Linked DNA regions of Homo sapiens. The protein of the gene in region 1 interacts with the protein of each later gene in a pairwise test. Each region holds a gene or a part of one and is shown in the gene's direction. Other genes may lie near its edges.

Region 1 (7,512 bases):
GGAACACAGGCATGTCGTCCGTACTGGCCACTATGAACCAGTGAGATGTATGCTACAACAGCAGGAATAGAGCAGGCTGTAGAAGCACATGTGAAAAGCATCTTACCAAATTACAATTTAGGCTTCCCGAGGAATTGATGTTGGCATTGAGTATGCAAATGTTAGAAGGAGTTGAAGGAACAAAGAGTGTTCCAAGCCAAAAATAAAGCATATATGAAGTTAAGCTTTACAAATTCAACTTAGTGTAACATTCCTACTACTTGGCTAGAGACATCATCCATCCATCCATTCTTCTGATTATCTATCTACCCATCCATTCATCCTCCCATCCCTCTTGTCATTCTTTTATTTATCCACCCATCCATCCTTCTTTTCTTTCTTCCTCCCTTCCTCCCTTCCTTTCTTTCTTCTTTCCTTCCTTTCTTTTTTATATCCATCCTTTCATCCATTCATTCATCCATCCGTCTATTTATTCCTGGTAGGTGCTAAGATATTTATTGAATTAAGTAATTAATTTAAAAAACCTTTACTGAGAGACCTAGTATATGCTCGGCATTGTGCCAAGCACTGTGGAGGGGATAAAGATACATAAGATATTATCCCAAGTGACATGAAGCTTAAAATCTCATTGAAGAGATGAACATTACACATACATTAACACAATACAAGCTGAATGGAACAGGTGTGTTAAGAGGTGCCCTATGAATTTATTATTGGCTGTGGGGATATTATATGGAGGGAAATCTAAGTTTCAGTGATAAAATTAACAGGCTAACACCAAACTGAATATTCTTCATCTCTTTCTTTTGTCTCTTTGCTTATTTGTTTTATTTGTTTTGTTTTCTAAAATTTGTTCTTTGACAGACTCTGTGGCAACAGCATCCGGGCCACTACTAGTCGAAGTTGCCAAAACTCCTGGTGCCAGCCTTGGGGTTGCCCTAACTACCTCGATGTGCTGTAACAAACAAGTCATTGTCATAGACAAAATCAAATCTGCAAGTATTGCAGACAGGTAAGTATTGTAGAAAGTGCCTACTTTTCCGCCAGGCGCAGTGGCTCACGCCTGTAATCCCAACACTTTGGGAGGCCGAGGCGGGTGAATCACCTGAGGTCAGGAGTTCGAGACCAGCTTGGCCAACATGGTGAAACCCCATCTCTACTAAAAATACAAGAAATTAGCCAGTCATGGTGGCAGGTGCCTGTAATCCCAGCTACTCGGGAGGCTGAGGCATGAGAATCACTTAAACTCGCGAGGCAGAGGTTGCAGTGAGCTGAACCATTGCACTCCAGCCTGGGCAACAAGAGTGAAACTCCATCTCAAAAAAAAAAAAAGAAAGAAAGAAAGAAAGAAAGTGCCCCTTTACAAAATTGCATGTGTGCAATTTTAAATATATATACATACATATGTACACACACTTGTAATACACATATACACATGCATATACACATACACACACACACACACACAGTTCTCTTGCCAGTTTATACAGGTTTCACACACAGAAGCAAGTTACTGTTACAGGGCTTAAAAATTCACCTATGTGTCAGCCACCCCATGATGTCACTTCACGTCATCCAGATGTTTGGTGTGGCCTTTAGCAATAGAAAAAAAAATCAAGCAACTAAGCAAGTTTTCTTACTGTGTCCTAGGGCACTAGCCTGTTCTTAATGTAGGGTAGCTGAGTAGATCTTTCTTAAACCCCATGCAGAGCAGTGATGGGTTTTCCTGAATTGTTGACAATTAAATCCTGCTACCATAAAATCTGATTTCTTTGTTTCTTAAATAAATAAAACAATACTTTTTAAAATATTTTTTACAATACTTTTAAAAAGTCCTATACTCTCATAGCATGTTAATCTTAGGATTTTACAACCTTCGAGGGTGTCTTAAAACATCATTCGCTTCAATGCCACAATAAAAATGAAATTTCATGTTTCTAATTAATATTTTATACTCGTAAGGTAAAAGGGGAAGATAAAAAAAGACTACCTTTCCATCTAATTAATTATTTTACAGCTCCTGGTAAGAAAAACCTCATCTCCCATAGCTAAAGCACTCCAAGTGCAAAAAATGTGGAATTATGTTTTTAGTTGGAAGATATGACTTGAAATGCTTTTGTCTTGAGACGTAGACTATTCACACTGGGAATTTATAGATATACTGCACCTGAATGACCAGTCTCCCCTGTATGTTTCCAGCCCTCTTCTCCACGTGCCCCTCAACCTGCCTTTCCACCTCCAGCCATGGTGCAGTGAACTGCAGCAACCCCCCGTAGTGGTCAGTCTACATCTCCATTGTGGTCTTACCCAACATTCAGTCCTTATCAGTGACAGCCATTGATCCAGGGGTGTTGTGCAGTTCAATGGCACAGGATGCTTTAATTTTCTCCCTCTGTTTTTTCCCATTCCACAGGGGGTAACCAGTTTAAGGAGCTGTTCACTTGACTGGTATGTGGGGATGCTGACGACTGCGCTAGCTTTTCTTAACTCATCCAGTAGCCAGCTCTTGAGTTCAGCAAGATGTAGCAGCTAGCCCCTTCCCTGCCCCCATCTTTCCCCTTGACTCACCATGCAGGCCTGGTTTTATTACTCACTTGACTCCTGCATAATTTCTACCATTATCAAGAGCTTTTATACTAATACATGTTCAACTCCAGAATAACATAATAATAAAGAACTGGTGATCTTGGAGTTTGTGTGAGGATTCCAAGGAAGTATTACTGAAATCTCCCCAAGTTATTCTTCTTTACACATAAAATAGACCCTATTCCAATTCTGAGAGTCATGTTTGAGATTCTGAAGATTTACCCACTCATGTTTATAGATAGAAAAGCCTAGAACAAAAAAACACAGACAAAAGTCCAGGGGAAACATTTTCCTGTTTTTCCCTTTCCTCTTGCTCGCTTTCCCTCAACTTTCCACACAAGCACTCCAAAATAAGATTTTTTTTTTAAAGAAAGACAAGAGAAAACATTTCGTTGAATTTTTCTCTATTTTCCACAAGGTTTTACTTCCTTGTTCATATTCAAGGTACTTAAAATTTGGCAGATGGTGTTTCCTATAACACTCAAACTTTTCTTTTCTTTTATTTTAAGTAAATGAAAAACTGTGAAATTTTAACTATGAAGGACATGAAAGTCAGATTCCAAAGAGGAAGGCACTGCCTCTTACCGAGTATTTCTCCTTTCCGTAGATGTGGCGCATTGCATGTGGGAGATCACATCCTCTCCATCGATGGAACCAGCATGGAGTACTGTACACTTGCAGAAGCAACCCAGTTCCTGGCCAACACCACTGACCAGGTCAAGCTTGAGATCCTTCCCCATCATCAGACCCGGCTGGCCCTAAAGGGGCCCGACCATGGTGAGATGGTCCACCTGGATCAAGCTCTTTCTCTGGCCCTCACAGTGTTGCTCCCTCTAGCAGAGTTAGACAGCAGAAAGACACTGGGTCTCATTCTGCCTTTTTTTTTTTTTTTTTTTTTTGAGATGGAGTCTCACTCTGTCCCCCAGACTGGAATGCAGTAGCATGATCTCGGTTGACTCCAACCTCTGCCTCCTGGGTTCAAGCCATTCTCCTACCTCAGCCTCCCGAGTAGCTGGGATTACAGGTGACCGCCACCATGCCCAGCTAATTTTTGTATTTTTAATAGAGACAGGGTTTCACCATGTTGGTCAGACTCATCATTTCTTTTCAAAACAAGGTTATGTTTGTTTACTCTAATTCATCTTCCAAAGTCTTTTTTCTAAGCCACACATAATTTGCTTGAAACCCTAACATCGAGGAAAAAATTTTCAGGCTAGTGCTATTTGATATTTTTTTCTTAAAAAAGTCTTTGGTGCAAATTGAATGTGCAGACAAGGAAAATAATTTGACTTCCTGGTATACATTTTGAATTTCCAGCCTAGATGAAGGCCAATGAAGGCAAATAGTAAAGCTCTCACTTAAAAATAAATAAGTAAAGTGGATTTTAATAGCAGAACCTTCAAATATTTGGCAGGAATCAGAGGGAACCAGTTATATGAAGCCTTGGTTTACAATATATTATGTCTTTTGCCAGTGGAGTTTTTTTCTTAGGATAGAGAACAACCTGTCTGAGCAAACATCTTGTCTGGGAGAATCAGAATATTTAACTCCATTTATTCAATAGAAAGTGTCAGCTGAAGGTATCTGTATTTTGACTCCCTTGAAATTCACAGATACATTTGCTGGGTGTTTATACCATCTACCTAGGCACCTTTAGGCAAAACCTGGTATGAGAAAGGGGTCTTTGAGCCCCAAATCAAATGAAGTCAAGTTTTCCAGTAGGATATTTGTTCCGACTCCCTCTCCTGCCCTATTCCTTAAAGCAAACACCATTCCTTTGTACTCCTTGAAATTAGAGGCCTCACTAGTATTGTCAGGGTGGCCTGAAGGAGGATAATGCATTTCTGTATATTTAGACACAGTGCAGTTTTCTCTGAAATTGAAATTTTGCTTATGAGGGGGTCATTTGTATTGTGTCTCCCACCTTTTAAAATGCACTACACTTCTCCACAGTCTGGGGCGGGGGGAAAGAGGGACCAGATAATTTTCATACTAAATCAGTCAGCTGGATGCAACCTTTTTAATTAAATGGAGCTTAGACAGCCCTGAAGCTAATGAAAATCTCTAGTACAACATTACCCTTATCAGATTTTAATTTTACACATTGGAGTAGAGAAATGATGCAGCATAGGCAGGTTATGAAAAGAAAATCAGCATCACAGTATTGGAATAGCAATGCAAACAGCTGTAGGAAGGTGCCGTTCACAAGGATGCACACCATTCCTATCAGGAGGCCCCGTGGGCCCTTCCTGCACTCTGGCAGAGAGGAGAGATTTCTGAAGCTGTTTAAGTTTCTTTAAATTAATCGGCAGTCATCATTGGATTTGGAGCACAGTAGCCATAAGAATGTACACTGTGTAGTGCTCTCTCAGCATGGGGTTTTGCTTGCTAAATTCTGGTATCAGCGAATCGGAAATGCATACCAGACCCTTTTAAAATGTTAGCATCTTTAGTAATCTCTTTTATTTTTCTTTAATTGGCCCTATATACAATTCATAAATAATTCAAGTGTTTTCAACTCATGGAATATTAAATTTTTTAACCTGCCAAGGCAATTTGAGTTTAATTTATACACTAAAATATATGGACTAAGCACAAATTTTTTGCCTTTATTGTGGAAAACCTGATGTCGTTTGTGTTGCAGGGATAGGAAACTGATAGGAAGTTTAAGTAATTCTAGCTTCCACTTCTGACTCCATCGTCTACGTTTACTGAAAGTTGTTCACTGTCTTTCTTATCAAGCAGGTGTTTCCGTTATATTGCACATTAAAATCAGACTTGGATTTCCAAGAGGAAATAAATTTTGGCTCCTAAACATAATTAAATCATAGTAAAGAAGAAAAACAAACAAAAAATTATTATTGTGTTTACAATTCTCAAATTTTTGACTAGTGGAGTTTTACATAGTTTTACCCTTTCTCCACAAGAAAGTTCTGATTGTTTTTTCAAGATCTCTGATGCCTGAACAGTGTGTCTCTCAACACACTTCCCAAATTTCCAGATTGTGTTAGCAGTAAAGCATATACCACAGAGTTTTCAGGCCAGTGTGGAAATGAATATCTCAACTTGGGATAAGAGATTAGCTATGCCTTTCACTGATAAATAGCAGCATTAAAGAAGCTGACAGAAATGAGTTTTCAGTGAGGTTAGAAATTTTTCCCACTGAGGGTTTTCAGGAGACATAATTGGATTGAAGGAAACTGACGTTTTGGAAAGGAAAATGTGACCAGAGTCACTAGACTCGACACATTCAGTACCAGGAGGACCTTCCATTTGAGAGCTCCAGGGCAACCTGGAACCACTGTGGTCTGCTCTCTCGAACATCCTGAACAGAGTAAGAGGCTGCAATTAGAGAAAGAAGAAAGAAAAGTAACTTCTGTGGCCATATATCTCTTGAGACTGCAGTAGTGACGTCACCATGGAATGATACAAGAACCATAATATTTTAAATGTGTTGTTTTCTTATCCATAACAAGGGACTTAGACATACCCATAGGAAGAGGCGGTATGTCTGGTGGTTGAAGCGGGGACTTTAGGATCACGTGTCCAGAGCTTCACCTCTGACTCCACCACGTGGGGTCTTAAGCAAGTTACCCAACTTTTCTATACCTCAGTTGCTTCATCTGTAAAATGGGGGTCATAATAATACTTGCCTCAAAGGAATATTGTGAACATTGTCTGAGCTAATCCATGAAAAAGCACCTAGCACAGTGCCTAGTATATAATAAGTAATCAGTGAAAGTAGGCTACAATTATTGGCTTTATTAAATGAGAGAATGTCTATAAGTGCTCTTTGCAAAATGACAGGACATGCCAAAAATGTAACATCTTATTATTAAACTTTGGAAATACTTGCCTATCAAGTACACCACTGTAAAACAGAAAACATTTGGAGTGTACATTCAAAATAGGCAGCAGCTCTCTTCTCTGGCCTACATTATTTGTTCAACACCTTTTGCATTCATCATCCATGGCATACAGTTTTGTGCATTATCTTATATCATTTTTGTCTCTTAATTATTTTATATGTATGAAGATTTAATCCCCAGTAGTAATTCAAAGTCAAGGTAAATGGTATGACCTTTAACCTGCCTGTAGCAATTGGCACAGTCTGAGAAAGCAATAGCTGGTAAATAATATCTTCCTTATTGACTTATTAATTGTGCTGTACAGTCCTAACAAATGCCCAGTAATTTTCAAAGCTCTCAATGAAGAAGCGGGTCAAAAGGTGGGTGTAGAATCCCGAAGTGCATTCACCGTACCCTGGCTTCATTTGAAACACAGATGGTACTTTGTGAAAAGTACGCTAAAGTGTCGGTGGTTGTAAATTGGCCAAACACAGTAATAACTGCGTCTTGCTGAAATGTCTTCTTGTACACCCAAAGTAGAATGAGGATGGTGAGAGAGAATCCATTAGGGACATCTCCTGCAATAAATACTCTTTTGTCTCAAGGAAAATGCTGCTGCAGTGTTCACATGGACACTCTGGCTGATATTCCCGTTCATTCATGCATTTGTTTATTCATTCATTCATGTATTAGTCATTATATACCAGGCACTGTTCTAGTTGCTAGGATATATTTAGTGAGCAAGACAGGCAAAGTATATCCCTACTCTTATAGAATTCACATTCTAGTACAGACAGACAAACATTAAAAATATATTAAATAAATAAAGCTGTTTCAGACAGCAATAAGTACCATGAAGAATGTAAAACAGTAATGAGATAGCATGGGGAGGGCAGCTCCTTCAGCCAGGGAGATCAGCAACAACTTCTCTGAGGAGGTGGCACCTCGGGTGAGACCTGAATGATGAGAAGGAGGCAGTCATACAAACAACTGGGGAAAGAACAGCAAGTGCAAAGGCCTTGAGGCAGGAAGGAACCTGACTTGTTCTAAGAGTAGACATAAGATCAGTGTGGCTAAA
Region 2 (8,115 bases), on another chromosome or scaffold:
ACCAATGTAGAGGATTCCCACTTTCAGCAGCATACCTGAAATCTATAAAGAGACCACAAAAAAAGGGACTGAGGTAGAGAAATCTGGAGGGGACACAAAGAACCGCAGTCATTAACCTGAAGGAAATATCAAGTCCCTGTCTCCTAAGTGACATCGGCAGGCTCAATAGGCAGACAGGAGAATGAACCAGAGACCCCATGGAGTCTGACTCAATGCACATCATGCAAGTCACAGTTATCTTCACCACCATCACCACTATCACCTTGTCTGGGGAGCATTTTACTCTTCACAAAAGGCTTTCATTCATGTGATGTCAGCTAATACATGAAGAGCCTTATAAAGAAGGTTATATCACTCCATTTTTGAAAAATGAGGAAACAACCAGTCGGGCGCAGTGGCTCATGCCTGCAATTCCAGCACTTTGGGAGGCCGAAGTGGGCGGATCACAAGGTCAGGAGATTGAGACCATCCTGGCTAACACGGAGAAACCTCGTCTCTACTAAAAATACAAAAAAAAAAAAAAAATTAGCCGGGCGTGGTGGCGGGTGCCTGTAGTCCCAGCTACTCAGGAGGCTGAGGCGGGAGAACGGCGTGAACCCGGGAGGCGGAGCTTGCAGTGAGCCCAGATCGCGCCACTGCACTCCAGCCTGGGCGACAAAGCGAGACTCCAGCTCAAAAATAATAATAATAAGTAAAAATAAACAAACAAACAAACAAATAAATAAATAAAGAGGAAACAGTCTCAGAGAAGGTAAATTTGTTGTCATGATCACAAGACAAGTAAATTGCATCATCAAGCCAGGATCTTCGGATCACTGGCGTAGCTCTCTTTCCAGTGCATCACAGATGTCCCTCATCCCTGGCTTCCACTATTCCCATCACTCTCACTAACAAATCTACAAGGTACCAGCATGAAGCAGTCCCAGGTGCAAGAATTTATGGCGCCCTGCACTTCCCCTGAGAGGCAAAGGAAGGCCCTAGGACTGGAAGACACGCATCTCTCCAATCCACATGGTTGGGTGGATTTTATGTACCATACTGAAAGGAAGCCACCTAGCATCTTTAAAGAGAGGGAGGGGGCTAGGGACACTGAGTAGAGTCATTGAGCCTCAGGTTGCTAGGACGAAAATACTGAACCAACCATTTCCCAGTAAAGGAGGAGTGGGAGCAGGGTCATAGGAATGGGAATGGAGTCACGGCATCTTAAGGACAAGGGAATGGGTATTCATCTTCAGGTGCTCACACTAGTGGTCCAGGAGTTGACTGCATAGGCCACAGCCTCCTTCTGGTTGAGTGTCTTTATTTCTTGCAGCTTTTCCCTAAACTTCTGGGCTTCGCCCTCCTCGTTGGCAAAGCTTCGAACTGTAGGCATGGCCGACAGAGCCTCAATGGCCACCTGGCTGGACTTTGCCAGAGATTCCCGCACCTGCACTTCCAGCAACTGTGGATACATGGACAAGAGATGTCACACGGGTTGGCAAACCATCAGGGACACTAATACCTGAGTTACCTATTTGGAAATTAAAGGTGAGAAGAGACAGAGGAAAAGGAGAAAAGAGAAAGAGACACAGCTATGCCCCTTGGATGCTAAAGAAATACGAGGAAGAGGAAAATGACTCAGAACGGGTTGGGGATCAAATTCTTAAAGACAGATTGTGGGGAGAAGCTAGAAAAGAAGACCCAGAGAGTATGGAGGTTAATGTTGAGCAACCTGGGAACATGGACCACAGGGACAGGGTGTTCCATGAAGATGGAGAATCAGTAAGGGTGCCAGGAAAGCTGGACTGAAAGCAATGTGAGAGGAACTGAGTCTGCCAAGTCTGGGAGATGAGGGTCTGTGTAGAGCGGGCCAACTCCATGAACATACCTGGTACCATTTTCCCACCTTCTTGGGCAGAAGGAAAAGCAGAGGCAGGGTGATCAGGGTGACCATGGTGAGGGACACTGATCCCCAGAGCATGATCCCCAAGAGACATAGGCCTCGCACCAGGTACCACAGAAATAAGCTCAGATTCTCACTCAGAGAATCACTCAGGGTGGACGTGTCCTCTGTTACCCGAGACATGATGTTACCTGCAGGGTTGGGGAGAAGAGAGTGAGGTGAATCAGACAGGTTCCAAGTGATGAGACGAACTAACAATGAGCCAGGATGCCAGGGTCAGGGGTGTCAACATGGGGTTCTAAGGAGGCTGCAGGAAACAAGGTTAGGGTTCTCCAGAGGTCTGCAAATCTCAGTGCAGGGAAGATGAGTGTTAAAGAGGAAAGGCCTGACCTTCATTTTAATTATAAAGTCATTAATGCACATGTGAATTTCCATTTTCCTGAAAGCTTTCTGTTCCCTAGAGAACCTGTATGTCCCATGCTATACACACAGGCAGGAAGAGCTTAAACTGGTCACATAACAGAGATGGAGGAGGAGGGTGCTGCTAGGAAGCATGCCAAAGTCTGTGGAGCACTCACTGGGACTAGGGTTCTAACCCCAGGTCTATCTCTAGCCATATGTAACTGTACAGCTTCTAGTGCTGCTAGAAAGCATGCCGAAGTCTGTGGAGCACTCAAGAGACCAGGGTTCTAACCCCAAGTGTGTCTCTAGCCATATGTAACTGTGCAGTTTCAGCATTTAGGGTCTTGGCCTCAGTTTCCTTCTCTGTCAGATGAGGCAGTTGGTCTCTATGAGCTCAAAATTTCCAGGTTTGAAATTCTATGGTTTCTATCTAAGGATACATAGGAATAGATTTATAAGAAAATGCTAGATGAAAACTCTAGGTTTTTCTTAAGGTAAGGAGGACAATATTTTGCTCCTGAGGTATATCAAGAATGAGAAAAACAATTGTGTGTGTGTGTGTGTGAGAGAGAGAGAGAGAGAGACAGAGACAGAGAGAGAGAGACAGGGAGAGGGTATATCAAGAATGAGAAGGAACAATGTGTGTATGTGTGTGTGAGAGAGAGAGAGCGGGGAGGGGGGAGATCAAAGCAGATGTATGAGGATATGAACAGTACATGGCGTATAATGAAAGAGTTTCAGGAGAAACCTGTCTGGTTCTGTTGGAAAAACTCCGTCTCCTGGCGCAGGACAGCCCCAAACACCTCTCCCTGCAAGTGGCTGTGCACGTGGCCCATGGTGTTGTTATAGATCCCGTCACCCACGAACTCCAGCACTGCACTATAAAGAACCCGGAAAAAAAGGGGATCAGGGTGTGTTCAGGGAACAGACTGAAGGTCCCAGGTATCCCCATATAAGTGCATTTCGGACAGCAGCCCCAACTTCCAACTCCCTCATTTGCAGGGTGCCCCATTTTCAGCCCCCAGACCTGGCTATGGTGAGAATGGACATGAGAGTTAAGTTTCGAGTGAAGGTATCGGCTGAGCCATCTTGTAGAATCCAGTCAGTGAGGCGGCCCGTAAAGAATGGAATGGCCATCTCCCCTGGAGAAAGAGAAGAGAGGTCACGCACAAATATTAAGTCTAAGTAGGTCAGTTCCAGTCAGACTGGCCCCACCACGCCTCCTCCCCCTCACCATTATCCTGGAGGGCATCAGCAGAAAGGAAACACTGACGTCTCAATCCCGAACCTAAATAGGCTGCCCTGGAACTCACTACCCTGTGGTTGCTCTACCAGAACTTTCAGGATTTTATTAGGAAGGCTGGAGATCATGAAGTAGAAAAGCCTCCTGTTAGAGATGAGGATGCCCCGCCCTTCGGCCCCAGAGCAAAGGATTTCCCCGCTTCCGGCGTGGCCCAAAGAATCAAGACCCGGTCAGCAATGGAGCCCAGAACCTCTGGCCCCCGCCAGTCCAGTGCCGTTTCTTCTACACCGAAGTGGTGTTCCAAGACCCACGCTAGGAGTCCTTCTCCTGCTCCACATTTCCCAGAACCCACGCTACTCTACCTTACTGACAATTACCTTTGATTCCTGTCCCAGTCCCCTTGTGTCCTCCCCTCTTGCCCTGCGTTCCCCTTACCAAGAGAGGAGAGGACCACCAGGACCAGGAACAGCGAGAGGCGGCGCGTCTCCGAGCCCAGGCAGCCTAGAAGCCGACGCACAGGGTTTCCAGAGCCGCCCTGACCGCCGGGCACCCAGAGGCTCCCGAGTTTGTGCCACAGGGCTGCTGCGGGCAGTGCCGCTGCATAACTGACAACGAAGGCGGTAGGGTGACTTCCCCAGTGCAGTAGCCTGGTGCTATCCGCGGACCCGGGGGCTCCCCATGAGATCAGCTCTCGGAACAAGGCAAGTCCCGGCAGGGCCAAGCCCAGTGCCGCAGCTAATGGCTTCAAAGCAGCCAGCCAGCCCTGGGCACCTGCGTTTTCGCTCTTGGAGCCAACCGTTGCCCTGAGGACCCCGCAGGCCCCCAGCCAGAGCACGGCCCAGCGGCTCAGGCCCACCGCCCAGACCCGGAGCAGTGGCAGCGCGGTGGGCACCAGCAGGGAGAATATGCGGGGCAGCGCGGTCCGGAGCAGCACCCAGTCGGCGAGAAGTAGCAGTACTGTCCCCAGCCATGCGAGAGAAGCTCCGGGGAGGCAGCGGCACCCGCGGGGAGCGGGACACCTAGAGCTAGCCATTGGCACTCGGACGCCGTCCCGGTCCCGGCCGGGCCTGGGACTCTCCGCGCCCCGGTGGGGCCTGAAGCTCCGGGTACCGCCGAGTCCTCCCCTACTGGCGGCTGGGGGAGGGAACGAGGGCGGGGCTCTCGGAAAGTCCCAGGAACAGGCTGATCCTGCGCTGGCGAGAAGCTCAGCCATTTAGGGGAAAGCGAAATCGAAAGCGGCCGCCTGCTCACTAGATAACGCCTACTTCCAAAAGTGGCCTGCCCAGACTATTTTGGTAGCAAGCGTGGAAATCAGATCTGAGAATCTCGGGAGCAGCCCTGGTGCCCAATTTTCTCCATCACGCACACCCTTCTCGCCTCTCCCTGCCTCCTGCCTTTCCACTTGCACCAGTTTTCCCACCCCAGCCTCAGGGCGGGGCTGCCTCGTCACTTGTCTCGGGGCAGATCTGCCCTACACACGTTAGCGCCGCGCGCAAAGCAGCCCCGCAGCACCCAGGCGCCTCCTGGCGGCGCCGCGAAGGGGCGGGGCTGTCGGCTGCGCGTTGTGCGCTGTCCCAGGTTGGAAACCAGTGCCCCAGGCGGCGAGGAGAGCGGTGCCTTGCAGGGATGCTGCGGGCGGGAGCACCAACCGGGGACTTACCCCGGGCGGGAGAAGTCCACACCGGGGTAATGGGTCTGGGCTTGAGGGTTGGCAGAGGGGTGGAGGAGATGCAGCGGCCAGGGGACCCTGGAAGCGCGCGCGGAGAAGTGAATGCAGAGACCAACGGGAGCGCAGGGAGGTCGCCTGTAGCAGCCAGCGCTTGCAACCCGCAATGAGCATAGAGTATTTCTTTTCTGAGGGGGGTCGTCTAGAGTGTCCGTGAAGGGAACAGGCACGCGAGGCTGGTGGAAAAAGCGGGTGCTTTGACTCTTAGCTGGAAGCGTCAACGGGAAGCTACTCTAAAGCGCTTTCGCTTTCACTCTGGTCCCGGACAGTGGGGGCTGGTTAAATCAAGAAAGGGGGTTGGGGATGGTGCAAAGAGATGAGGAAATGGTGCCCTGGGTGAAGTAGAACAGCACTTGGGAGAAGGAAATATAGGCACTTATTGAGAAGGACCAACTCATCACACAGACTTTTGATAAACTTGCCACTGGGCAACTCTTAGCCCAAGCACTGATAATGGGCGTTCTGTGTTAACTAGTGATGCCCTTCCCTAGCTTGACCCAGGAAGGCCTCTCCTTGGCCCAGATGCTGCCTTACTCCCTTCCCTGTGTCTTCCCTGCCCACTCCCATGTGCCCACTGGGGGGACTTTGCTTAGGATGGGCGCCTGGGGCAGATGGCAGCCCCAAGACTGGCTGGCTGGCTTCTGCTCTGGACTACTGCCACCACTCGTGGCTTGGGGGCGGCTTTGTTAGAGAGGAATAGCCTCTAACTTGAAGTTAACCCTGTTCTTTGACCCTCTATTCATGATAAGTCGGTCCGTCGGAAAGCATACTCAGAGGAGCGTCCTTTGGGGCCAGAGTAACTTACGGCCTGGTAAGAAAGACACAGTGAAACCACTTATAATTTGGGAAATCTCCCCTCACTGCCAAATGAGCAGTGGCAAGTAGGAAGTAGAAGTGGAAACAAGGGATAAGAGTTAGACCTGAATTTTAGTCCCAGGTCTACTATTAACTCTGTGTGACTTTGCATAAGTCGTTTGCATTTTCTGTGACTTGGTTTCCTCATTTGAACCGAGGATCTTTAAGGCTCCTTCCAACTCAATAGTAGAATAAATGTAGCTTTATCTTCCCTCACTTCTTCTTGATTCTTTTCTTGACCTGGAAAAGTCAGCTTAAACTTCTCAGTCAAATTATCTCTTGGTACAAATTTACCTCCCTGGCTGCTGAGATATGTATTTACCTCTTGATCGGAAATTCCATAACTGAAACTTTTATTTTCAACCATCTGTATGTGTTCCTTGCTGCTTCTCTCCTGCCTTGCCCCTGGCCATGCTAACCACTGCCCTCCTCGATTTTTTCCAATGTTCAGTAAATTGGAAGAGCTCACTTCTGATGAAATGGGGGGTGAGAGTGGAGGATTGTGGACCAAAAAAAAAAAAATAGACTGACCTTGTTTCCCAAGATCATAGTCAATTACTCTGTGTTGGGTCTACACCACATCTGCACATACTATGAGCCCTTCCGTTGGAGATAATTTTCACTTGCGGAGCTGCTTCACTTCTACCTGTAGGAGCCTCATCTCCACCTCTCTACAGTGGAGAGGATTCCACTAGGCAAGTTGGAACTTAGGGACACAGTTCTTTCTGTGTTGTATCACAGCTGGGCTGTGGCATTCCCCTGCAGCCGGATGAAGCAATAGAGAAAGTGGAAAGATGAAGGGAAAAAAAGCCTGTACTGACAGTCAGCTCTGGCCTGTTACTGTGTAATCTTTGAGCCAGTCACTTCGCCTCTCTGGGAATGTTTCTTCTTCTCTAACATGAGGGCATCAAGGCTGTTCTTGCCCTGACATTCCATATTCTGTGTCTCTGCAGACCACCATCATGGCAGTGGAGTTTGACGGGGGCGTTGTGATGGGTTCTGATTCCCGAGTGTCTGCAGGGTGAGTAAAAGTGAAGATGTATGCATTTGGAAAGAAGCTAATGGCCTCAAATACACACTTTCCTTACCCATTCATGAAAAGACTGGCAAACTGGAGCCTTGGAGGAATGGAGTTGACCTTCCCCAAAAGCCACTATGATAAGCTATTTGGTGGGTGCTTGGGTCTCTGAATTTGTGGAGGAGGATCTGGGGTCTGAATGTGTATGTGACCTGTCCCAGTAGTGTACAGGGATGAGTAAAGGAATAGGGTCTGAGAGGGGGACAGGAGATAGATTTTTGAGGGTCTTCTTTCCATCTGTGCTTAGGGATCAAAAAGATGATTCTGTCAAGCAGATACCTGGTTTCTCATTTACCATATATTGAACTATTTTGTCTCTTCTCCCACTCCTAACCAATTTCCTCACATGCAAAATGAGTATATGGGGTTAGGTCAATATTACTGACATTATGTTCCATAGAACATAACTCTCTCAAGATTGTTAATAGCAAAGAAAATTGATGAGGCATATTTTTCTTACCTTAGCATTTTTTGCTTTGTTATAAAATCTAAGCCTGAAAAATAAGCCTAATTTTGATTAACATCTGCAGTGATTAATAATATCTGAGATGATTATTTGCCTCCTGCTTTAATCCAAGCATTAAACTTCATGCTATTCTCTTGTCAAAGAAATTTGAGAGACATTGAATGATCACCCTCAAAAATTCCTGAGTTCTGGTTGGGTGCAGTGGCTCACATCTATAATCTCAGCACTTTGGGATGCCGAGGTGGGCAGATATTTGAGGTCAGGAGTTTGAGACCAGCCTGGCCAACATGTTGGGACCTTGTCTCTACTGAAAATACAAACATTAGCTGGGCTTGGTGGTGGGTGCCTGTAATCCCAGCTATTCGGGAGGCTGAGGCAGGAGAATCACTTGAACCAGGGAGGCGAAGTTTGCAGTGAGCCCAAGATTGATCCACTGCACTCCAGCCTGGGTGACAGAGTGAGA
Region 3 (7,512 bases), on another chromosome or scaffold:
TTATGTTCTGTGATCAAGCAGCCTTCATATAAATATAAAGGAGAGTAAATGTCATTTCCAAAACTAATTATCTTGGTGCTTTATAAGACATAAAGCTAGGCATTTCATCCCATATTTTATAGAAATAAAAGTTGAATTTTTTCTTTGAGAGTTGGTGGCTTAAAGGGGGAGTCAAATTACCAGGAAGGTGATCATAAATACATAGACTTTTGGACTAGGATGTTATTTTGCCTTTTATTCAAGATATTTTGCTCTTCTTTTAAATGTGTCTAACAATCTGTCCCTGTAGTTTTATATTTGCATTTCTACTAACTAGACACTTAAGATGTCAGTTCCTCCCTTAGCTAGTTTACAGAGTTTGAGCTAGAAATTTGGTATGCTTACAAACTATTAAATACACTGTACTTTGTCTCTTCGTATTGGAGAAACTATTAAAAGAAAATTCTGTTGTCTAATGTTCTTGCCCATGAAGGAGGTTCCATAGCTTTAGAAGTCAATAACTCTATTTATGTGTATGCAGTAAGTGCAGCTTTCTTTCCAGTGTTAAAACAACCCACCTCAGGTGTCCCTGCATTATTTATATGTAACATATCTTCATACTTGAATTACTCAAATTTTGAGCTCCATGGTTATGATTATGATATGCCAGTTGATTTACATTATAACAACAGATGGTAATGGTGCAGGTTGAAATAAAAGATCATTAAGATAAATATTTTAGCCTTCATTGGCTCCCTGTTGCATAAAATTTGTCAGAATGAAATAGAATCATGGCATTTCAGAATTGGAAGAGTCCTTAGAGATTATCTCATCCAGTCCCTTATTTGACAGAGGAGAAAACAGAAACCCAGAGAGAATGCTGCTTGCCAAGGTCGTACAGCTAGTTAGTGGCAAAGCTAGGACCAAAATCTAGGTCTGCTATTTACCAATTCATTGCTTTTTCTGCTGTCTCTGTGTGAGATTTTTAGGTACTGTTCCATCTAATTACTCCCCAATGTCAGCACCAATTATTCTAATTAACATCTATTCATTCTGGAACATACGCACTTTCACCCCATTATGAATCTCAGTTGGTTAAACTTTGTATCTGGCTTTCTTTTAGGTTCTCTACTCACATCTTTTAATCTTGAAGACTAGAAAATATAACTGGATCTACCACTTGTTTGGAAAATTTCTCTACCAAGCAATAAATTACCCGCTGTGCTTTTGTTGTAGTGTAGAAGTTTTTGAGTTCTCCAAATCTAAACAAGATTTTGTCCCATTTTCCCATGAAGCTACATTGTTGCTTATTCACTTTAGTGGCAAGTATTATTGTGCCAGCTGCTTTTGTTTTGGAAGATGTGGACTTCGACCAAATGGTTTCACTGGAAGCAAATCGTAGTTCTTACAATGCATCCTTTCCCTCAAGCTTTGAACTCTCAGCAAGTTCCCACTCGGATGATGATGTCATCATAGCCAAAGAGGGAACTAGCGTTTCAATTGAGTGTCTTCTCACAGCCAGTCACTATGAAGATGTCCATTGGCACAATTCAAAAGGACAGCAACTGGATGGCAGAAGCAGAGGTAATTGGTCAGGGTATAATTAATCAAGGTTACTCATTTCCTGTTCTGTCTTCTTATTTTTTAACACGTTAAACAAAAAGTCTCAAAGATAAGGTGCCAAGGTGAATAGTTTAAAACATTTGAAAGGTCTGGAGTGTTGTACCTATCAGAAAATGCAAAGTAATTATAATTGTTTAACCAGAAGAAGAAAAAAAAGAATCATTCTAAATTTAAAAGATGTTCACATGATGACAATGAGCTATTTTCTCTCCTGATCAGTTGGTTTTCTTCTTCATTGAAGGTAGAGTAAATCAGGGCTGCTGCATACAGCTGTACAGGTGGTATACAACACAACTCTGGGAGCACCCTTCACCTAGACTACTATGTCAGTAGTACAGTGTGGTGGCCCTGTGTGAATACATCCAGAAGGTTTTTGGCTAGACTTAAGAAAATTTGTTATAAATAAAAAAGTTTTGCTCTGAAATTAGTTACTATAAACTTTAGAGGAAATCCAGGACATTTTTGAAAATGAGTATCAATCTGTGCATAAAACTTTGACGTCAGGTCTCAGAGAATTAGAAGGGCACTATGGAACTTGTAAGCCCTTCCAGCTCTTTTTTTTTTTTTTTTTTTTTTGTATTCTATACCTTAATTTACTGGAAATGAGAAATTTTTTTTTGCATTTTTTGTTTATGTCTTAAAAATCACATAAACATAGTGTGTTCAAGGTCTACTTTTTGACAGATTTTTATTTAATTTTCCTATTCATGGATCTGTGAATATATCTTAATCCAGACTACTCCTAACCAGTGTTCTGTTATAAAGATCTTTTTGATGAGTACTTGAGTTATAATGGACCTCAAAAAGAAATCACCATGAAAAGCCAAAGGGATGAAGCTTAAATTCTAAGATCCTCACAAGCTACACTTTCAGAAATTTTTTTGTTAGGAAGATAGTGTAGCCTTCTGAAATAGAAAAGGATATTGGTTATTCATATTAGGCTGGAAAACACAAAAGGAGACAGGTGATACTTCCTTCAGACATATGCACTATTTTAATCTATAGACTGAGTGACTAGTCACCAAGGGATTGAAGAGTTTGAATTGTTAGGGTATTTTTAATCAGCATGTTTAAAATACATAACTATTGAATTAGAGTGATACCTGGAATGTGTACTTTGAACATGATTTGGGGTTCCATATTTGAACCCACTGAACCAGACTCCTATCTTCTCTGGGCTCTACGATATCCTGACCAAACACCTCTGAGATCTGAATTATTCATTCAGTGTCATCACTGTAGACTGACTGCATAAACAAAGCCTTAGGTTAAAACAAGACCAGCCAAGTGGAATGGCAGTTTTATTTTTCTATTTTGCCTTTACTTTGAAAACCACTAACATCTATCATTGATGCTTTCAGCAGCAGCTCTGGAAAATTGTATTAAATTTTATGAATCTCAAGTGAGAGGAGTTTAAAGAGCATGTCAGTCTAGTATAAGGTTCATAAATCTTGAGCTATTATCAGCAAGTGAGCTAGAGAGTTTAGATTGTGGTTGTAGTGCAATGGTTGATGAATGGAGTCTTTGTAGTTCATCATACCTTGGATTCAAGTGGTGTCGTTTTCATAGCTCTAAGTTCATAGAACAGAAGCTTATGGAAAATGGCTATATTCATAACTACATGTTTTCCTCTTTTTGTATTAGTGAAGTGATGGCTTTTAAATATATTAATACCTATAGGATTGAGATAAGTTTGGATGATGATGAAAATGGACAAAATCCAGAGTGCTTACTAATTTATGTGCCACTAAAATAATCCAGAACCATAGAATCTTGGGGATGAAAGAGATTTTGAAGATTGGGCACTCAAGTAATGCTTAACAAGCAGTCCGCTAACCTCCTCTGGGACACCTCCTCTAGTCATTGGAATGCATCCCCACACTGCAGGTTAGCCCATCCTTCCCATCTCTGAATGGCTTTCATAGTTAAAGCACAGAGTGCTTTGGGAATGTATCACAAAAGTAGGAATTATGCAGTCAGAGCCAAGTTATTGAAGGATGTGAATCAAGATGCGTAGTCAATATGCTTTGCTTTTCTTACACTTGTATACTTCTATATACGTGTTCCCTGAATGAAAATACCTTCACGTGTGGAAGAGAGGCAGTATGTTTTAGGTTGAAAATGGAAGCATAGGCATCTTAAGGGCAACTTTATTCTTTTTGCCAAGCTTTTCATTTACCATGACTTGTGAGATGTATTTTTTGGCCTGTGCTTCAGTTACTCTTGCCAGAAAATCAACAAAAGTTTCTTAACAACAACAACAAAAAATTGATATGTGCAAGGCATACCAGATTAGGCAGTTACTTCAACAAATGCATTAAATTGCTAGGATTTTTTAAAATAATTTCTTCTTGTTATATAATTTCACTATGGAAAGTGAGCAAACACAGTTAGAAGAAAATAAAAATTACTCATAAAAATTTAAAATACTGTTATTTTAAACCATTGTTTTATATTTCTGAGACATACCCTCATAGTATATGAAAATGTATTGGTTGCAATGTGATGTAGACGGACACATATGTATAAACTATAAGCTTTTTTTATGATTAGTCATTTAGCATTTTATAGACATACCTGTTTCACAGAAAGGCTTTTGAAGTCTAGCAGTGAAAAGGAAGCTATGTTAATTATTAGTGTCATGAAGGAAGATCTTGATTTCCTTTTAAGATCCAAGCTAATTAAATTCTGACTCTGGACCTCACAGTCTGCCCTTTTTTTACATGATTTAAACAAATGGTAGAATCTAACAAATCAGCTAAGTTAAAGTACTTTGATAAAGAGGTGGAATATGGATAAGGCAGCGGGCATATTTAGTAATCTTTTTGCTATAATTTTTTTTTCATTTCTGTTCAATTATCAGGTGGAAAGTGGTTGGTTTCTGATAACTTCCTAAACATCACCAATGTAGCTTTTGATGACCGTGGGCTCTATACCTGTTTCGTCACCTCTCCAATTCGTGCCTCCTACTCTGTCACCCTACGTGTTATCTTCACCTCGGGAGACATGAGTGTCTATTACATGATTGTTTGCCTGATTGCCTTTACAATCACACTCATCTTGAATGTCACACGGCTGTGCATGATGAGCAGCCATCTTCGCAAGACTGAGAAGGCTATCAATGAGTTCTTTAGAACTGAAGGGGCTGAGAAACTTCAGAAGGCCTTTGAGATTGCAAAACGTATCCCCATCATTACCTCAGCCAAAACTCTGGAGCTCGCCAAAGTCACACAATTTAAGACCATGGAGTTTGCTCGTTATATTGAAGAACTGGCAAGAAGTGTCCCTCTTCCACCTCTTATTCTAAACTGTCGAGCCTTTGTTGAGGAGATGTTTGAGGCTGTGCGAGTGGACGACCCTGATGACCTGGGTGAAAGAATTAAAGAGAGACCTGCCTTGAATGCTCAAGGTGGCATCTATGTCATTAACCCAGAGATGGGACGGAGTAATTCACCAGGAGGAGATTCAGATGATGGCTCTCTGAATGAACAAGGCCAGGAAATAGCAGTTCAGGTTTCTGTCCACCTTCAGTCAGAAACCAAAAGTATTGATACAGAGTCTCAAGGCAGCAGTCATTTCAGTCCACCTGATGATATAGGATCTGCAGAATCTAACTGTAACTACAAAGATGGGGCATATGAAAACTGTCAGCTGTAACCTACAATGCTGTAACCCAGTACCTACAAAATCAGCTCGCTCTCAGAAAAGGAACCTGTTTCTTAGAAGAAGTAACATTTTTGCCAAAAGATGACTGGGGTTTTCCGTTTGTTAATATTAAGCACATCAGAACGTGAATTGCCAAAGTCTTCATTAGAAGGCAGCATTTTTCCTCTCTGATACTTTTCAGTCATTTTCCTTAGAGCTTTATTAAATTATGCATGCTAAGATTTAAAGGAGCCCCAGATAAACATGATGGGGAAAAGCACTGAACTAAGAGTCCCATGGTTTCTCTTCTGGTCACAGTTCTTCCATTGGTTGGATCTGATACTTATCTTGGGACTTCAGTTTTTCCGTCAATAAGATGAGGGATTAGGTGAGATCTGAAGTTGTTTCTAGCTCTATAGCTTCTTAACCCATCACCTTTAAATTACCAGAATCTTCACTCATCTCTAAGTAAACCTTTCCCGGGACTTTTACTCGCTTCTTTTGGAAAGGATTAAGCTGAGATCTAAATTTCCACACCAATGTCATAATGCACAGAGGTTTTTGAAAAACATCTGAGTGTTTTTCAGATGTTTTGCCATGTGGAGCATATAATGATATGTGCAAGATTGAATCTTTTCAATGTAGCACATGTCTGTAGGGTTATACAGATGTCAGAGAGCTAACTGCTCTGTAAACTACTTTCCATGAGTAAATTGGTCCTTGGTGGGGGTGTATCATATTTTTAACTTACTGAGATATCATTTTAGTTCATTGAGGTTGGCAGGGATTGCCTAACTGATCTTCCAAAGTGAGCAGTTTATTTCTAAGGTATAACGTCTTTGATGCTTTTAGAATAAGAACAGTGTCAAATCATCTGTCTTCTGGAAAATCATGGATTTTCATATTTCTGTTAACAGAATTTCTCAGGCTTTCCCTTTTTAAAAGTATTGGACTCTACAAATAGGTTCTATATTTGGGATCTCATCCTAGGAGAAAACCCAAAACTGGATTCCTCTTAAGACCTCTGTCAACCCTCCTGCCCTTTGTGGTCTTAGGTATGGTGCTATAGGTTGCATGCGTCTTTATCTTGTTTGTTTGGTTAATATTTTGTTGTTGAGGTTTTTATTTTTGTTTACTTCAGATACATAATTCTGAGCTATGGCTGCTTTTGTAGCCTTTCCAAGAAGCACTAACCTGAAATAAGATTAGATAATTGTGAGGGTGTGTTACTATATTAAAATACACACACAACTGATCTAGACATCAAGAGGAAGAAAAATGATGGATGATGCCACCTGCTTCAACTGTATATAATAAACACTTATGATGACATTTCTTGCCTGGCTGAGATCTGATATAATGGAATTGTAAATACTCTTCAGAACAATTTCTTCAGCTACAGGAAGCGTGGTGCCATATAATTTTAAGAACTTGGCAGTGGAGCTCCATTTGGGGCTTCACGTTTCTTCATATGACTTCTGATTATTGAAGCATTACTTCAGCTAGAGGCTCCTGAGGGAAATGTTCAGAGGAGGTTTTATCAGGATTTTAATTTAAGGTTTCAAACAGGGGAAGACAGGAAATTCAAAGCGTGACGGGATAAAACTCATGCCTCCCTTTGTCCAGGCTTATCAGAAGTAATACATCTGCTCTGAATAGCATGAATGAATCAATGTGCAGTTTTATCAGATGGCATCATGGATAAAGATGATAATGCTGCCTTTTCTGTCTCTCAGGCTGTTTCCATGGAAACCTCTAGAGCCAAATAAAAGCTAACCAATCATTTAGCCAAAGCTTGCCTTGGCTCATAGACTGGTATTTCTTTAAGGAAAATTGTTTTTATATATTTGACTATAAGAGCAAAGGCTCTTGAACATATCCTAGATTATGGAACACTTTTTCCCTTCCCTTTTCTCTGGAAAAATTAAATTTTTTTTCTGTCCACTGAGACTGGAGTGCAGTGGCAAGATCATAGCTCACTGCAGCCTCCAACTCCTGGGGTCAAGCGATCGTCCTGCTTCAGCCTCCCAAGCAGCTAGGACTACAGGTGTGCACCACCTTTCCTGGCTAATTTTTTTTTATTTTTTGTAGAGATGGGGGTCTCACTTTGTTGCCCAGGCTGACCTTGTACTTGTGGCTTCAAATGATCCTCCTGCCTTACCTCCCAAAGTGTTGAGATTACAGGCATGAGCCACTGTGCCTGGCCAAAAAACATTTTAAATCCCTTGTCTGGGGGTCAGTCCTCTAAACATCCCTCAGATTTCA
Region 4 (7,700 bases), on another chromosome or scaffold:
GTGGGTGGCTGGGCTCAGCTGGGTGGTTGCTCAGCTCCTTGTGGTCTCTGCTGGGCTCACTCCTGTGGGCACATCCAGCTGGGGGACAGGCTGGGTTGCAAGGTCCTAGAGGATTCTCTCACACTCAGAGGCCCTGGTGCTGCTTGAGGGCTGGGGTGTCTCAGTTCTTCTTCCTGTGGCCTCTCAGTCACAACAGGAGAGTTAATACTTCCCTATAGCATGGCAGCTGCGTTCCAGGAGGGAACATTCCACAAGGAATGGACTAGTACTTGTCTCTGCTTGCCTTACTCTCACAAATCACATGGCTAAGCCTGGAGTGAATGTAGAAAGAGGTCACACAGGGAGGAGAATGAGGGGAGGCTGGACCCACTGGGCACCCATGTACAGTCTATCACACACTGTTATGCAGCAGAGCACTGGAATCCTTTAGAGTAATATACGAAAATGCTCCTGGTGGTGGGATTACCGGCTGAGTGTCTATATACAGGCACAGAAGAGAAAGCAGAATTACATACCTGTGTGTAGAAGATGAAGCTTTGTTCATTGCCCCTCTCCATGGTGTCTGTCCATGGTGTCTGTCTGGCCATCCTCTGCCACAACTCCCAGTGAGGCAGGATCTGATGTAGAATGCGCAAGTGGGCTGCCAATGCCTGGAGTTTCCTGAGTTTGGGAACACAGGGAGCCTACTCTGATAAAGAGGGACAAATCCACTGTTAAGGTCACACTAAAGGAGACGTTGCCTTGTCACACTGATATAATTCAGGACAGCATCCAGCTTGGCCACTGCACACAAGTTGGTGCCAAGTCAATAGCCTGACTGAAGCTCATTGATTGGGGCATTGGGGCTTGCTTTGCCAGGACTGAGGTCTTGTGTGTTGGGGCAACATTTCCCTATTCAGCTTTCAAATCTCATCTTGACCCTCACTTCCCGGGAAGTCCCCTAGCAGAAATTACTTGTAATTCACATCCATATTCTCTTCCTCTCCCTTATTTCAACAGGCACTAGTCTTACTGATTTCATGTCTGCAGTCCTGCTGCACCATCAGCTCCGGGAATAGAAGTCAGGAGTGTGCTCCTCACTGTACTTCCAGTGCCTAGCACTATGGGTGGTAAAACTGAAAACACAAATGCTCTCCCTTCTTGTCATCTGCCACCTCTCCCTTTCCCTAAATCGCCATTTACTTTAAAACTGCTAACTAAGAAGCAAAAGGCCAATGACCTTGGTCCTCTCTGACCAGGCCCCAGGTGAGAACTATGTCGTAAGGGGCAGTGGCCACAGGATGTGGTATTTGGCTGGAATGATATAATTTCTGCCCTTTGACATCGTCATGTAACTGGGTTGTCAGCTAGAGCCCTAAATAATAAAATGCAAATAAAACCCTCATTCCTTGTAAAATGGGACCCGAGCCAACTTCCCAATCTCAATGAGGATTCTTGAAAGTCAGGTATTTCCCTGGGTCTCCTCGTATTCTGATTTTCTGCTTCCACTGAATCCTGGCTCTTTCTCCCACCCATCTTTCATATTTTAGCTGCCCTTTTTCTCTCTGTCTTTAATTTACCCAGAAAGATTCAGCTCCCTTACTTTATCTCTCCTAAACATAACTTATTGATGGCCATTACATACATATCTTACAAAATTTAGTGTCTGTGCATGGGGTAGGGGTGGGAGGATTGCATCATGAAATAGCACAGCAGATAAAATAGACTGTTAGCCGTAAGTTTAAAGGCCTCTGTCGCCCACTTTCCTGAGCCCCCAAGCCAAGCTGGGGAATGTTCTCTTCTATTAGCTGTCTGTTCAACTTCTTGGACCCCTTCATCCCCCTCCTAAACCTTTTCATCTCCACCCAGGCTCACGTACCCCACTCTCCCCAAAAACAAGGCCTATGTTTTTTTAGATTCAGAGAAAATTTTTTTTCATTTTTTGAAGATTTTTCCAAAGCTGTTGTCACTGAAGTACACCCAAATGCACATATTTAAAGTATACGATTCTGTCAGTTTTGACATTCATATGCCCATGAAACTATCACCTCTCAAACTACATTGCCATCAGCCCCCAAAGTTTCTTTGTGCCCTTTAAAATCCATTCCTCCCTCCCCATCATCCCCAGGTAACCACTGATCTGCTTTCTCTATATGTATGTCAGTTTGTATTTTCTGGTGTTTTATATAAATAGAATCATACAGTATGTTCTTTTTTGCCTTGCTTCTTTCACTCAGTATAACGATTTTGAGACTTTTCAATGTCATGTAATAGTTTGTCTTTATTGCTCAGTAGCATTCCATTGTATGGATATACTACAATTTATTCATTCATCCACTGATGGATTTGAGTTTCTTGTTGTTTTGCTTTGTGTGTGTGTGTGTGTGTGTGTGTGTGTGTGGGTGTGTGTGTGTGTGTGTGTTTGGCTATAACAAACAAAGCTCCTATGAACATCCACATTCAAGTCTCTGGGTTTCATGTTTTCCTTTTTCTTTGGTAAATACCTATAAGTAGATTGGTTGAGTCATATGGTAAGTATACGTTTAACTTCTTAGGAAACTTCCAAACTGATTTCCAAAGTAGTGGTGCCATCTTACACCTCCACCAGCAATGTATGACCATTTCAATTGCTCTGCGTCCTCACCAACATTGGATACAATCAGTCGTTTTAAAGTTAACCATCTCATTGCATGTTTTTGTGGGGTGTATGTATGTGTGTTTTTAAATGCACTTTGGTTTGGCCAACGCTTGGTTTCATTTATACCAAGGGGAGCATTTGCTAGGTTTATGGGGAATAAAACCAGATTATTTCTGTTGTTCTAGGATATTATTAATAGAGTCCTCTCTTCACCTCCAGAGTGTCCTGGTTTGTATGATAAAATATGTTTTCTCTGCTTCCAGCCCAAGTAGCCACGCTCCACGGCTGTGCTTCCACAGCCACGTTGCGCATCAAGGCATTCTGCTCAACGAAGAGTTTTCTCTGTTTTCCTGCTTGTCTTAAACTGTTTTTTCCTTACCGCACCAGGATTTCAGTGCGTGGCATAATGTAGCCCAGTGTTTGGGTGGGAGATGATGGTAGGTAGCAAGGCATTTTTGCGATCAAGTGCAAATAGCTTGCCTAAAAATAAAGCCAATAAAGAGAACCGTGGAGCCAGAGATGGAGGCAGTCCTGCCATGTCCTAATGACCCCATCATCACTTGGGTCGGATGCAACCAGACTTGAGGTAAGATTCCTTACCTTAACTTTTCAACAAGGAACCAAAAATTTCCCCCCGACCTTTTTTTTTTTTTTTTTGGTCTAAGCTAGTTTGACTTGGTTTTCTGACCAATATACATAGCAGGGGAATGTGCCTCAGAAAGGCAGTAGCATTTTCCAAACTTGGGCTGCCGCTAATTTTACAACCAAAGTACCTTCCGCCTGTGAGAGGTACTATTTTTGCTGACCCAGTCCTTGGAATTGAAACCAGATGCACTGGTCACATTGGTTGGGGATGAAACTTCAGAGAACACTAAACGTCCAGGGTCAAAGTATTCAACGATATCACCGCATGATTTGCTTAATCGAATACTCTAGCTCTAGGTATCCACTATAATGCAGAGGGCTCTTTAATCTTTAACCAAATTGTCATTTAGCAGTGTGATGCAAAAACTCTTCTGGGTTTTGGGAAGCAGCCCCCATTTCCCTCCTTCGTAATGATTAGACTTAATATTACAAAAACTTATCCTTGTTTACTCACAGCGCTAAATGTGCAAAGGAGCAAACCTGTATTTGACCTATGCGAACACACAGGAGGGTGGTGCGTGCCCTCTGCTAGGAGCACAATGCGTCGCTGGCGTTATTAGAGGACATCTCTCTGAGCGGAGCAAAGGTAATACACTGGTGGAAGAAAAGAAAAGGCCGAAAGTGGGGACAGAAATTAAGACGATCCCATTCAGTCTCCTCTGGAACGTTCTGCAAAATTCCGTGAGACCCTGGACCTACAGCGATGCACTCTCAGGGACTGCCCCGGCCTTCATCCCCACACCTCAAAGACAGACGAAAAGCAGCTGAGCAGATCTCGCCTCGGGCAATCCTAAACAGCCTCTACCAGGCACAACCAGTCCTAGGCCCCGGGCGGCAACCATGGTCCGGGGGCAGCTGACTTAGGACAGCCTCCCTGTGACCCGCCCTCGCCGGCACGGCGCCGGCTCCGCCCCTTAAGCCCCCTAAGTCCCGCCTCTGCGCTCCCGGGGCCTACCCCCGCGCTCATGGCCCCGCCCCCGCTTTTCCTACCCCATCGCGCCCTGGCCCCGCTCCCACACTCTATGACCCCGCCTCTCGCACTCCAGGCCCGCCCCACGCGCTCCAGGGTTCTGCTCTCCACCCATTTGTGCCAGGCCACGCCCCCACACCCATGGCTCCTCCTCTCGCACGCCAGGGCCTCCCCTCGCGCTCTCTGGTTCGTTCTCCACCCTCTTGAGCCTTGATGCCGCCCCCTCTTCCATGGCCCCGCCTCTCCCACTCCAGGCCCGCCCTTGCGCTCTCGGGTTCCTCTCTCCACCCACTGGTGCCAGGCCTCGCCCCGCGCCAGGGCCCCTCCCCCACGTGCCCTCGGGAGTCCCGGGGAGGAGTTGCCGCGCGGAGGAGGCGTGGCCGCGGTGCCTGCGGAGGCGCGAGCGGCGCGGCGCGGCGCGGCCGGGACTTTGGCTTTGACACCGACTGCGAGCGGGAGCCGTGCGGCTGGTGCTGGGTCTGGACTGGCTCTGGCGGATCCCCGCCCGAGTTGGGCGCAGGACTTTTTGCCGGGGTAAACGCAACTGCGGCGGCGCCGCCGCAAGCCCCGGTGCAGCCTCGGCGGCGGGTTTCGCCGCCGCTGCCGCCGCCTCCGAGCAGCCCTGCGGCTTCTATTCACTCTGGGAGAGCGATGCTAAGTTTCTCCCATAGAAAGAGCCGGGACACGCAGACCGAAGCGGCGTAGTCGGCTTCCAGGGCCTGACCAGTGACCCACACCCGCGCGGACGCCTAGGCTGGAGGCAGGGGGCCCGTGCTGTCCCGGGCTGGGCTCAGGCTTCCGAGCCGCAGGTGGAAGAGGAACCGGCGCCCCGCAGAGCGGCCGAGAGGTGGGGCGCGGGGACCCGCGGCAGGTCGGGTGGGGGGTCGATAAGCCCCTTCTCAGTGCCCGCTCCGGGGAGCACGGACTTCCCAGGTTGCAGGTAGCGCTGTGTCAGATGCGGAGCGTGGGGGAGGTGGAGTGGCCACCCCGTCTGCGCGAGCCCAAGTGTGGGTGACCCAAGTGTCAGAGTTGAGAGAGGCCTGGAGGAGAGGCATGAGGCTGATGGGGATAGGTCTCTTCCCAAGAGAAGCGGCTCGTAGCCTTTTTGGACTCCAGTGTGATAAAACCCGGACGTCCCTAGAGGAGAATCCACATGGGCCTAGCCTCATTGTGCCTGCGTTTTTAGGGGTTCACGGGCAGCCACCAGTCCCCGACTCCTGGTTACTAACTCTAGCACTAGGTAGGGGGTGCTAATGCAAATTTCTTAATTCAATGGGTTTCTATGTTTATTGATTTATTTTCTAGGCGGCCAAGTGAAAGGTAATTTTGGACACGCCAGGCATGGAAGATTCGGTGTTTGTCTATAGTAACCTCTTCAGTCCCTGAATCCTGCACCTTCCGTTTTTCTGTGCTTGTACGGCCTACTGGGCTTCCTCCCTAGCCAGAGAGCTCTTCTGCAGTGGTGCGGCCTTCCCGGGAGCCTGATCCTGGCGGACCATGGGGAGCACCCTGGGCTGCCACCGCTCCATCCCCAGGGACCCCTCGGACCTGTCCCATAGCCGCAAGTTCAGCGCAGCCTGTAACTTCAGCAACATTCTAGTGAATCAGGAGCGGCTCAACATCAACACTGCCACGGAGGAGGAGCTGATGACCCTGCCTGGGGTGACGCGTGCCGTGGCACGCAGCATCGTGGAGTACCGAGAGTATATCGGTGGCTTCAAGAAGGTGGAGGACCTGGCATTGGTCAGTGGTGTAGGCGCCACCAAGCTGGAGCAGGTCAAGTTTGAGATCTGTGTGAGCAGCAAGGGCAGCTCAGCGCAGCACTCTCCCAGTTCCCTGCGGCGGGACCTGCTAGCGGAGCAGCAGCCTCACCACCTGGCCACAGCTGTGCCCCTCACCCCACGTGTTAACATCAACACAGCCACCCCGGCCCAGCTCATGAGCGTGCGAGGCCTCTCGGAGAAAATGGCCCTCAGCATCGTGGACTTCCGCCGTGAGCATGGGCCCTTTCGCAGCGTTGAGGACCTAGTGAGGATGGATGGTATCAATGCCGCCTTCCTGGACAGGATCCGGCACCAGGTGTTTGCTGAGAGGTCCAGGCCCCCATCCACCCACACGAACGGGGGACTGACCTTCACCGCCAAGCCTCACCCGAGCCCCACTTCCCTGAGCCTGCAGAGTGAGGACCTGGACCTGCCGCCAGGGGGGCCCACCCAGATTATCTCCACTCGGCCGTCCGTGGAGGCCTTTGGAGGCACAAGGGATGGGAGGCCTGTGCTGAGGCTGGCCACCTGGAACTTGCAGGGCTGTTCCGTGGAGAAGGCCAACAACCCCGGGGTGCGAGAGGTGGTGTGCATGACACTCCTGGAAAACAGGTGAGGACAGGAACCACCATGGGTGTTGGGTGTGAAGGCAACTTGTGCGTGACCTCATCTATGGATGCAAATGAATGGATTCTTTTGCGGGTAGGGAGGGTGCAAGAGTTTTTAATCAATGTTCTTGAAGCCTCAGCCAATACCGTCACCTGAGAATGGGCTGTCCTTCTGCTCCAGAATTTTCTGAATACAGCTGGGCTTGTGACCCATGTCTTGAGTGTGAGATATCTGAGACTGATTCATAATTTTGGGGTAAGCAGAGGTTGTGTTTTTGTTACTGCTTTGGAGGATGCTGGGTCTACACCAAGTCAGGCACTCAGAGCATGGGAACTGGTGCAGTTTCGCATGTGAGAAAGAGCTCATTGGATTTTGTTTATTAATGGGAGGGAAAATCATATTTGTTCCATCAAATATGCCTATTTGTGCACACAAAATCATCTTAAAGGCCAAGTATTTGCAAACACATACAAGTGTCTATATTTACCAAAATGCTATGAATGAATCACTCTCCATTCTTTTTCCTTATTTAACCTGGAGTTGGTTTTCAGCCCTAAAATTGTAGCCCAAAATGTGTGTAACCTTTTCTGTGCCATAGCCAGAAAAAAGCAAGCTGACGTGTGTGTGTGAAAATTGGCCGGATTTTCCCCATTTAAACCAAAGAAAAGAGTCCAGTAGGATAGGCCGTTACCACAGAGCGTTTATGTTATTCACAATACTGCTCTCTGTAGGAATTTCTGTTAGCCTCGTCATAAACAAAAACAATATTATTTTGGCAGTAACTCCTGCTGTTAGTAAAATAGCAAACTGTATAATGTAATCAGGTGTGGGAAAGAAAGAAATATTTGTGATGGTCCCTTCCAGGTCATAAGAGCTGTGATCCTGGACTTGAGGCGTTTTGCCCTGCCACCCACCAGGGGTGCAGTGTTTGTGGCTACTCGTTGATTTCCTTTGCACTGAGTTGTTGGTGAGGCTGGCGGCGGGGGGGCAGCAGTTTGGTGACACGAAGTGAACTCTCAGCGGGAAATCACAGTGCATGATGGCAGATCACCAGGAAAATTAGTGAGGAGAAAAGCAGGTCACAACGTTTCCTTGG

The links.
Region 2: the proteins of GRIP1 (region 1) and PSMB9 interact in binary tests that used the Homo sapiens proteins (3 or more experiments, as listed by UniProt).
Region 3: the proteins of GRIP1 (region 1) and MFAP3 interact in binary tests that used the Homo sapiens proteins (3 or more experiments, as listed by UniProt).
Region 4: the proteins of GRIP1 (region 1) and EEPD1 interact in binary tests that used the Homo sapiens proteins (3 or more experiments, as listed by UniProt).

What each region holds. Positions count from the first base shown.
Region 1 is NC_000012.12:66,458,775-66,466,286, reverse strand, and holds part of GRIP1 (glutamate receptor-interacting protein 1), read left to right. Parts: intron 1-864; coding exon 865-1,012; intron 1,013-3,193; coding exon 3,194-3,363; intron 3,364-7,512. UniProt on the Homo sapiens protein: May play a role as a localized scaffold for the assembly of a multiprotein signaling complex and as mediator of the trafficking of its binding partners at specific subcellular location in neurons.
Region 2 is NC_000006.12:32,849,077-32,857,191, forward strand, and holds the start of PSMB9 (proteasome subunit beta type-9 precursor), read left to right. Parts: upstream 1-5,115; 5' UTR 5,116-5,153; coding exon 5,154-5,213; intron 5,214-7,061; coding exon 7,062-7,129; intron 7,130-8,115. Other genes in the region: TAP1 (antigen peptide transporter 1), read right to left, coding at 1-42, 1,244-1,441, 1,868-2,073, 3,033-3,163, 3,312-3,426, 3,963-4,560. UniProt on the Homo sapiens protein: The proteasome is a multicatalytic proteinase complex which is characterized by its ability to cleave peptides with Arg, Phe, Tyr, Leu, and Glu adjacent to the leaving group at neutral or slightly basic pH.
Region 3 is NC_000005.10:154,048,455-154,055,966, forward strand, and holds part of MFAP3 (microfibril-associated glycoprotein 3 isoform 1 precursor), read left to right. Parts: intron 1-1,102; 5' UTR 1,103-1,268; coding exon 1,269-1,563; intron 1,564-4,465; coding exon 4,466-5,259; 3' UTR 5,260-7,512. UniProt on the Homo sapiens protein: Component of the elastin-associated microfibrils.
Region 4 is NC_000007.14:36,148,596-36,156,295, forward strand, and holds the start of EEPD1 (endonuclease/exonuclease/phosphatase family domain-containing protein 1), read left to right. Parts: upstream 1-4,658; 5' UTR 4,659-5,079; intron 5,080-5,537; 5' UTR 5,538-5,729; coding exon 5,730-6,607; intron 6,608-7,700.